3 separate regions of the Homo sapiens genome follow, and all the other regions are linked to region 3. The links come from fine-mapping of genetic effects on gene expression. A gene starts in region 3. Each other region holds a variant in brackets. All regions are shown on one strand. Distances are between the middles of the regions.

Evidence for each region. PIP is the estimated chance that this variant, and not a neighbour inherited with it, causes the effect.
Region 1: its variant is fine-mapped to the expression of FAAH in whole blood (GTEx, PIP above 0.99). The same link has a PIP of 0.9 or more in cerebral cortex, fibroblasts, left ventricle, lung, subcutaneous fat and tibial artery.
Region 2: its variant is fine-mapped to the expression of FAAH in esophagus mucosa (GTEx, PIP 0.92).

The regions. Positions count from the first base shown.
Region 1 is chr1:45,478,308-45,481,067 of GRCh38, reverse strand. The region is part of intron 1 of TESK2 (testis associated actin remodelling kinase 2); the gene reads left to right. Among named protein-coding and RNA genes, the nearest start is that of TESK2, 11 kb to the left of the region's middle. The variant A/C (reference allele first, on the strand shown) is at 1,295.
Region 2 is chr1:46,418,689-46,421,448 of GRCh38, reverse strand. No RefSeq gene overlaps it. Among named protein-coding and RNA genes, the nearest start is that of FAAH, 26 kb to the right of the region's middle. RefSeq lists an enhancer at 1,193-1,242. The variant T/G (reference allele first, on the strand shown) is at 1,181.
Region 3 is chr1:46,393,176-46,395,935 of GRCh38, reverse strand. FAAH (fatty acid amide hydrolase) reads right to left here and starts at 1,619. Exons shown (of 15, transcript NM_001441.3): 1 at 1,393-1,619. The coding sequence starts at 1,587. RefSeq lists an enhancer at 1,218-1,731.

The sequences.
Region 1 (2,760 bases), 910 kb after region 3:
TATCTTAGAGACCTTTCCAGATCAGTACATAGAGAGCTTCCTCATTCTTTTTTTTTGGTTATATATATTATTATTTTTTTGAGACAGAATCTCACTTCATCACCCAGGCTGGAGTGCAGTGGTGCGATCTCAGCTCACTGCAACCTCCATTTCCCGGGTTCAAGTGATTCTCCTGCCTCAGCCTCCTGAGTAGCTGGGATTACAGGTGTGCACCACCACACCTGGCTAATTTTTGTATTTTTAGTAAAGACGGGGTTTAACCATGTTGGTCAGGCTAGTCTCGAACTCCTGACCTCAGGTGATCCACCCACCTTGGCCTCCCAAAGTGCTGGGATTACAAGTGTGAGCCACTGTGGCCTATATATATATTATTTATTTATTCATTTATTATTATTATTATTTTCTTTTTAATCACCTGCATAGTATTCCATTGAATGGATGTATCATAATTTATTTAACTAATTCCTTATAATGGACATTTATGTTTCCAGTGTTTTGATATTATAAACAATGCTGTAAAAAGGGCCTTTGAATGTGTCATTTTATATGTGTGCAAGGATATTTGTGGGATAAATTCACAGAAGTGAGATTTCTTTTTTTTTTTTTTTTGGAGACTGAGTTTTGCTCTGTTGCCCACACTGGAGTGCAGTGGCGCAATCTTGGCTCACTGCAACCTCCACCTCCTAGGTTCAAGCAATTCTTCTGCCTCAGCCTCCTGAGTAGCTGGGACTACAGGTGTGTGCCACCACGCCCAGCTAATTTTTATATTTTAATAGAGATGGGGTTTCACCCTATTGGCCAGGCTGATCTCGAACTCCTGACCTTGTGATCCGCCCACCTCGGCCTCCCAAAGTGCTGGGATTACAGGTGTGAGCCACCATGCCCGGCCCTCAGTCTTTTCTTTTATAGCTTTTGGATATTGAGTAAAAAAGATAGAAGAGCCTGACTGGGCGTGGTGGCTCACGCCTATAATCCCAGCACTTTTTGGGAGGCTGAGGCGGGTGGATCACCTGAGGTCAGGAGTTCGAGACCAGCTGACCAACATGGTGAAATCACGTCTCTACTAAAAATACAAAAATTAGCCGGGTGTGGTGGCATGCGCCTGTAGTTCCAGCTACTCGGGAGGCTGAGACAGGAGAATGGCTTGAACCAGGGAGATGGAGGTTGCAGTGAGCCGAGATCTATCTTGCCACTGCACTCTGGCCTGGGCAACAGAGTGAGACTCCATCTCAAAAAAAAAAAAAAAAAAAAAAAGAAGGGCCTTCTGCATTTCAGTCCTTTATTTTTTTAATCT[A/C]TCCGATGGGAACAAGAAAACAATTATTGTGAAGATCAAAATGCTCTGTGAACTGTAAACTGTAAATCATTATACAGATTAAATATGGTGTTATTTATTAATTTGTCTTTGGAACAAGTGTGGAGGCTATTCTCTCTTCCTCTGAATTAAATAAAATAGAATAATATAATTTTTTGGGGGGGCTGGGCGTGGTGGCGCATGCCTGTAACAGCTGCTTTGGAGGGTAAGGCAGGAGAATTGCTTGAACACAGGAGGCAGAGGTTGCAGTGAGTCGAGATTGAGCCATTGCACTCCAACCTGGGCAACAAGAGCAAAAACTCCGTCTCCAAAAAAAAAAAATTTTTTTTTTCTTTCTGCAGTATGGAAAACTAGGGTGGTATTGATCTTGTGGTCAGTGTTTTCCTTGGACAATTTCATGGAATCTTCTTCACAATGACTTCCACAATGATTTCACTATGGAAATCATAAAGTATTTTTTATACTTAGTCCTATTATTCTTTGTATTAGGTGTAACTAGAATCTGACTAAAAGTTCTCAACATTTGTTTCACTTTCACATTACATAGTATTTACTTTGGGTTTTGTATTGCTACTGTTTGTTAGGAATTTGTATTTTGGAAGGATGTTAAAAATTTTTTTGGCGATTATAAAAGTAATGCATATTCATTAAGGAAGAATTGGAAAATAGAGATTTTAAAGGAGAAGATACACATTATTCATAATTTGCCCATGATTCAAAAAGTTAAAAACAGGCTGGGTATGGTTGCTCACCCCTGTAATCCCAGCACTTTGGGAGGCTGAGACAGGCGGATTATGTGAGGTCAGGAGTTTGAGACCAGCCTGGCCAATACGGTGAAACCCCGTCTCTACTAAAAATACAAAAATTAGCTGGGCATGGTGGTGTGCATCTGTAATCCTAGCTACTCAGGAGGCTGAGGCAGGAGAATTGCTTGAACCCAGGAGGCAGAGGTTGCAGTGAGCTGAGATTGTGCCACTGCTCTCCAGCCTGAGCGGGCCACACAGTGAGACTCTGTCTCAAAAAAAAAAAAAAAAGTTAAAAACCATTGTTAACATTTTGGACTGTATCCTCTCAGAATTATTTGTCTGTGTATGTCTATATTGTCGTCACCATCTCTCCAGGATTTGGCATAGTGCCTGGCCCGTAAGAGGTGCTAAATAAATATATGTTGGCTGAGTGAATGAAAGAAGGAGTATGTTTTTTACATTGAAAATGTGGAATCTCGATGTCCTATTTATTTTGCTTTTTCTCCACTGTACATTTTGACTCAATATTGTAGTATTATACTTTGTATTGCCATAGTTTGAAGGTAAGTTTGAGTCCAAGCCCTTAGCTTGAACTAAAAGAGCTCATAGTCTGGAAGCTCATAGTCCAGTGAAAGAGATGATAAGCAACAATTAAAATACTATATGATGACTATAATAACTAAGACTTGTGCAGGGTGATAT
Region 2 (2,760 bases), 26 kb before region 3:
CAGCCTGAGAGAGATGAAGGAGTTAAGAGGATGAGAGAAGTGGATAGATGAGGATCTACAGACCAGGAGAAAGCTATAGGTTGAATGTAGACTGGGAATTATTTGTCCTCATGGGCACTAATCAAGATCATGGCTCCTAGCATTTTGGGAGGCTGAGGCAGGTGGATTGCCTGAGGTCAAGAGTTCGAGACCAGCCTAGCCAACATAGTGAAACCCCATCTCTACTATAAATACAAAAAATTAGCTGGGCGTGGTGGCAGGCGCCTATAATCCCAGCTACTCCGGAGGCTGAGGCAGGAAAATCGCTTGAACCCAGGAGGCAGAGGTTGCAGTAAGCCGAGATCCTGCCATTGCACTCCAGCCTGGGCAACAGTGCAAGACTCCATCTCAAAAAAAAAAAAAAAAAAGATCATGGAGGTAGATACAATAAATGTGAAAGGAGCAAAGGGTCAGGGACTGATTGGAAAATTCCCTATTGGAGGTGAGAAGAGGAAGTAATCAGAATGGACCAAAATGGGTTCCCTAATAACAAGTCACCCATTGCTCCATTCAACAAGCCTTCTCTGGGTACCCACTGAGTACCAGGCACCATGCTGGGTGCTGAGCATACACAGCCCGATCCCAAGTGGCTTCACCTTCCTGAGGTGCCCAGGGCCGCCACCCCAAATCTATGTGTAGGAAACTTGGGAGGGCCCAGCTAAGCCCAGCCAGAGAAATGTGAACTAAAGATACATCTGGCTGGGAAGCTCAAAACTCGGTTATGTGTCTGTCTGTTAAGGGTGTAGGTCACGCCCTTTCCTTGGTCTGCTGTGATCCATAGGTTTATGGGTGACTTGGATGAAGTTGCAGAGGTCCAGTGCTCAGATTTGTGGATAAGCACATGTTGGGAGGAAGAGCAGAAACAGCCAGAGCTCTTGGGATAATCCTAAAAATGGTGTCCAACAGGAACAAATGACAAGTGCTCTGGCTGTGTCCTAAAACTCCAATATCGCAATCGCCAGGAGAGAAAAGGGAGGGTGGACAGGGACATGGCAGCTATCTCCTGTAAACAGATATTGGCAGAGGTGCACAGTACACAGGACTGCTTCTGTCTTCAAAGTGTTGTGGTCGCCTAGCACAGAGGCTGGTGTCCGAAGAATGTTGAATGCATGTTCTTGTGATGATTGTACAAATGAGGAAG[T/G]CACAGTAAGTTTAGAGTTGAGCGTGTGGGTTTCAAGTCTTCTCTGTAACCCATAATGATCAGCCTTCAACAAGTCAGCAATCCCCTCTGAACTTCAGTTTCCTTATGTATAAAATGGAAATAATAGGGCCAGACACGGTAGCTCACACCTGTAATCTCAGCACTTTGGGAGGCCAAGGCGGGCGGATCACTTGAGATCAGGAGTTGAGGACCAGCCTGGCCAACATAGTGAAACCCCATCTCTACCACAAATACAAAACATAGCCAGGCATGGTGGCAGGCGCCTGGAGTCCCAGCTATACTCGGGAGTCTGAGGCAGGAAAATCGCTTGAAGCCAGGAGGCGGAGGCTGCAGTGAGCTGAGATCGCACCACTGCACTCCAGCCTGGGTGGCAGAGGAAGACGCCATCTCAAAGAAAAAGAAAAGAAAAAAGGCCAGGCGCAGTGGCTCACGCCTGTAATCCCAGCACTTTGGCCAAGGCAGGTGGACCACCTGAGGTCGGGAGTTCGAAACCAGCCTGGCCAACGTGGTGAAACCCCATCTCTACTACAAATACAAAACATAGCCGGGCACAGTGGCAGGCGCCTGTAATCCCAGCTACTTGGGAGGCTGAGGCAGGAGAATCACTTGAACCCAGAGACAGAGGTTGCAGTGAGCCAAGATCGTGCCATTGAACTCCAGCCTGGGCGACAGAGAGAGACTCTGTCTCAAAAAATAAATAAATAAATAAATTTTTTAAATGGAAATAGTAATGCCCACTTTCCAAATGAGATAATGGGTATTCAACTCCACAGCCTAACAGATGTTGGGTTCTATTAATACACAGACCTTGCTTTTGACCACGTGCAGAAGCACAAAGAAGCTCTTTCAACACAGCCTGACAGAGTTGGAAGAGCAATTGCCCTCACCTTGGACGAGTAGGTGGTCTTTAGGTGGAGACCCCAGGAACAACACTCCAGGCACAGCAAGCACCAAGAGCAAAGGGCGTGGAGGCGGGAGATCACTCGGTGTTCTGAACATTACCTGCAGGCCACGTGGCCGGGCTGTGAGCACTGAGGAAGGGCAGGAGATGAGGCCGCAGGGGCCAGCTGCAGGGTCAGGTTAATCATGGCCTTGCAGGTCATAACAAGGCTTCTGGACTTGGCACAAGTGAGTCCAAAGATTTTAAGCATGAGATTGCCTAACTGCCATGTGAAAGATTGTTGGAGATGTCCAGTCTGGAGCCCAGGGAAGCGAGGCAAAAAGCTGTGGCAGGCCGGGCACAGTGGCTCACGCCTGTAATCCCAGCACTTTGGGAGGCCAAGGCAGGCAGATCACCTGAGGTCAGGAGTTCAAGACCAGCCTGACTAACATGGAGAAATCCCATCTCTACTAAAAATACAAAATTAGCTGGGCATGGTGGCACACGCCTGTAATCCCAGATACTCGGGAGGCTGAGGCAGGAGAATCACTTGAATCCGGTAGGCAGAGGTTGCAGTGAGCTGAGATCTCGCCATTGCACTCCAGCCTGCACAACAAGAGCGAAACTCCGTCTCGAAAAAAAAAAAGAAGCTGTGGCAGTGGACCCGGTGAGAAGGGGA
Region 3 (2,760 bases):
TATTTCTTTTCTCAGTCTCTTGTCCCACCTGAGGAGAAATACCCACAGGTGTGGAGGGGCTGGCCCCCTTCAACATGCAGGGCTACACCCTGGGCTGGCATGCAAGGTGCCTTCCTCATATCTCTCTCCTGTTCCTCTCCACGAAAGTGTGGCTGCAGAGTGCAGCGGGCACCTAGGTTCTAGTTCCAGCTCTGCCCCAACTCAAAAATCACTTGCGGAACATCTGCTGAACACAATTTTCTGTGACTCTTTCTGTCTCCCACCCAGGCACACCCTCCTGAGTCCTGCGGTTCCCAACCTGTAAAGCCTTCCCACCTGTCAGGTCCCACAGATACAGCAAGCCCTCCCTCTCTCAGCACATAAGAAGGCTTTAACTGGGGTCAGTGTTTCACACACCCAGAGGAAAAGCCCCTCTTCAAGCCACATCTTCCAAACCCTCAGCCAGGCCCTTCCACGCCTCCAAACCCACATACTGAGGTGATCCAAAGGCAGCGCAGGGAGAAAAGCTTGTTGACAGACCACCCACGGAGGGCTGGAACTAAACCTGCTCATGGAAAGGGCTTGCCAGGGGTTGGACACCACAGCAGGAGCCAGAGAGACTTCCCTTCTAGCCTGGCTTTGCCAAGATCTCCCTGTGCACTTGGCAGGTTTCTTTCTGGCTCCCTCTTAGGATCCAAATGCACAAATCAAGAAGCTTGAACTCAGCCAGGCGCGGTGGCTCACGCCCAGCACTTTGGGAGGCCGAGGCAGGTGTATCAACTGAGGTCAGGCGTTTGAGATCAGCCTGGCCAACATGGTGAAACCCAGTCTCTACTAAAAATGCAAAAATTAGCCAGGCGTAGTGGCGGGCCCCTGTAATCCCAGCTACTGGGGATGCTGAGGCAGCAAGAATCGCTTGCACCCGGGAGGCGGAGGTTGCAGTGAGCCGAGATCGCACCACTGCACTCTTGCCTGGGAGTCAGAGCGAGACTCCGTCTCAAAACAAAACAAAAAAAAACAAAAAACAAAACTCTAAGCTCTCCAGATCCCCTTGGCCATTACACTCTGCGATTCCAAAGTCCTCAACCCCTGGCATCCCACTGGTTGTCACGCTTGCGTTTTCGCATTCCAATAGGCAGCAATCGTGAGATTCTTTGGCACAAAGCAAAACTCCTCTTTGACCCAGTGAGGGAAAGGCCTTCCACCACCTGCCTTGACACTACCGTTTCCTTTCTTCCCCCGTGCTCTACCTGGCTCAGAAAGTGCGGAATATCTTAGGGCAAGGAGAGATTCTGGAGAGTTACACATCTGCTCTGCCCGCCCCATCCCCTGTCCCTCGGCGGGTCCGGCGGCTGAAAGTGCCGCTGCGAGTACCCTCAGGCCGCGCCCATCCCACTACGCTCCGGCAGTCACCTGGAGCCGGAAGCGCTGCGCCGCCCTGTCCATGTTCTCCAGGCCCGCTCGCTGCCTCTGTCGCGCCCGGACCACCGCGCCCCGCGCCGTCCGGCGCCCGGACCAGCGCAGGGCCACGGCCGCCGCCACGAAGCAGCAGGCCAGGGCGACCCCGGAGGCGCCAGGCAGCGCGGCCCACAGCTCGTACTGCACCATGATCCCTTCAGCCTGCTGCTGCCTACCGCGACAGTTGAAGCCGCCGCACGCGCAGCCCGCCCGCTCCGCCGCAAAACCCGGACTGGATCAGCCGGGATCCCACGCCCGCCTGCGCGGGAGGGGCGGGGAAGCGCGCCAGAGCCTAGAGGCTATCAGAGGCGGCCCGCCTGGCATCGCCCCCAGCGACATCCCGCTCCCCGCCAAGCCGAGCAGGCGGGTGGGGAAGGGCGACTGTTTCTCGTGGGCGACCTCCCAAGCTTGAGTTTAGCACCGGTTGGGCACCACAGCCCCGGCCGTCCTCTGCCCCCTGCACCCCAGAGCCCCAAATGCTGAAGACTGCGCCCCAGCCGGAGCCCCATGCCAGACATGCCAGCTGTTAGATATGAGTTCTAAATTTATCTTAAAAGAATCAATATGTCAGTATCTTCAATTCTTTGCCTTCTACTTTTAAACTTAACTTCCTCATAAAGCAACATTTTTCGATTACCTGCTCCTCCCTCACTCATTCTTCACCGTGGTTCATTCCGATTTCCTGCTCTGCGGTAACCATTTTTCCCGCCAAACCACTCACCCCCTCACTGTCTTTAAATTAGCCAATCGGAATTAGTTTAGCCTATAGGTCTAACCCTAGCCAACAGGGGAAGGACACAGCATCAGGAATCACGTGGGTCAGGCATAAGAACCACCTTCCCCTCCCTTGTCCAGGTGTGCGCTCACCTTTGCTCCGTCTGTGAGGGCGCACCCTTCTATAGAAGTAAATTGCCTTGCTGAGAAGAAAAAAAAGAAAATTTTATATTCGAGTGCTATTTCTTTTGCGGCACTGGGGGGAAACTTTATTTATAACAATTTGGGGGCTTGCTCGTGATTACATTCCCCTTCAGGGGCAGTCTCTGGTTCTCTCTCCTGAGGAGGTATGCCCCACCCTCTTGTGATGGCCTCAGGGGTGAGAAATCAGGACTCACCCAGTGCAAGAAATAACCTGAGCTCTCAGCAATGTGAAAAGAAACCAGCAGGCAACCTAGGGTAAAGCATCCTCACACACTGCAGAGACAACTCTGTGCACAGACAAAGGAAGAAGCCGAGGGAGCCGGTAAGGTACTTCCTTGGTGGTCAAATTCTGGAGGGCTAAATGTGTGTGTGCGTGAATGATCACAAACAACCCTACCTGTGGTG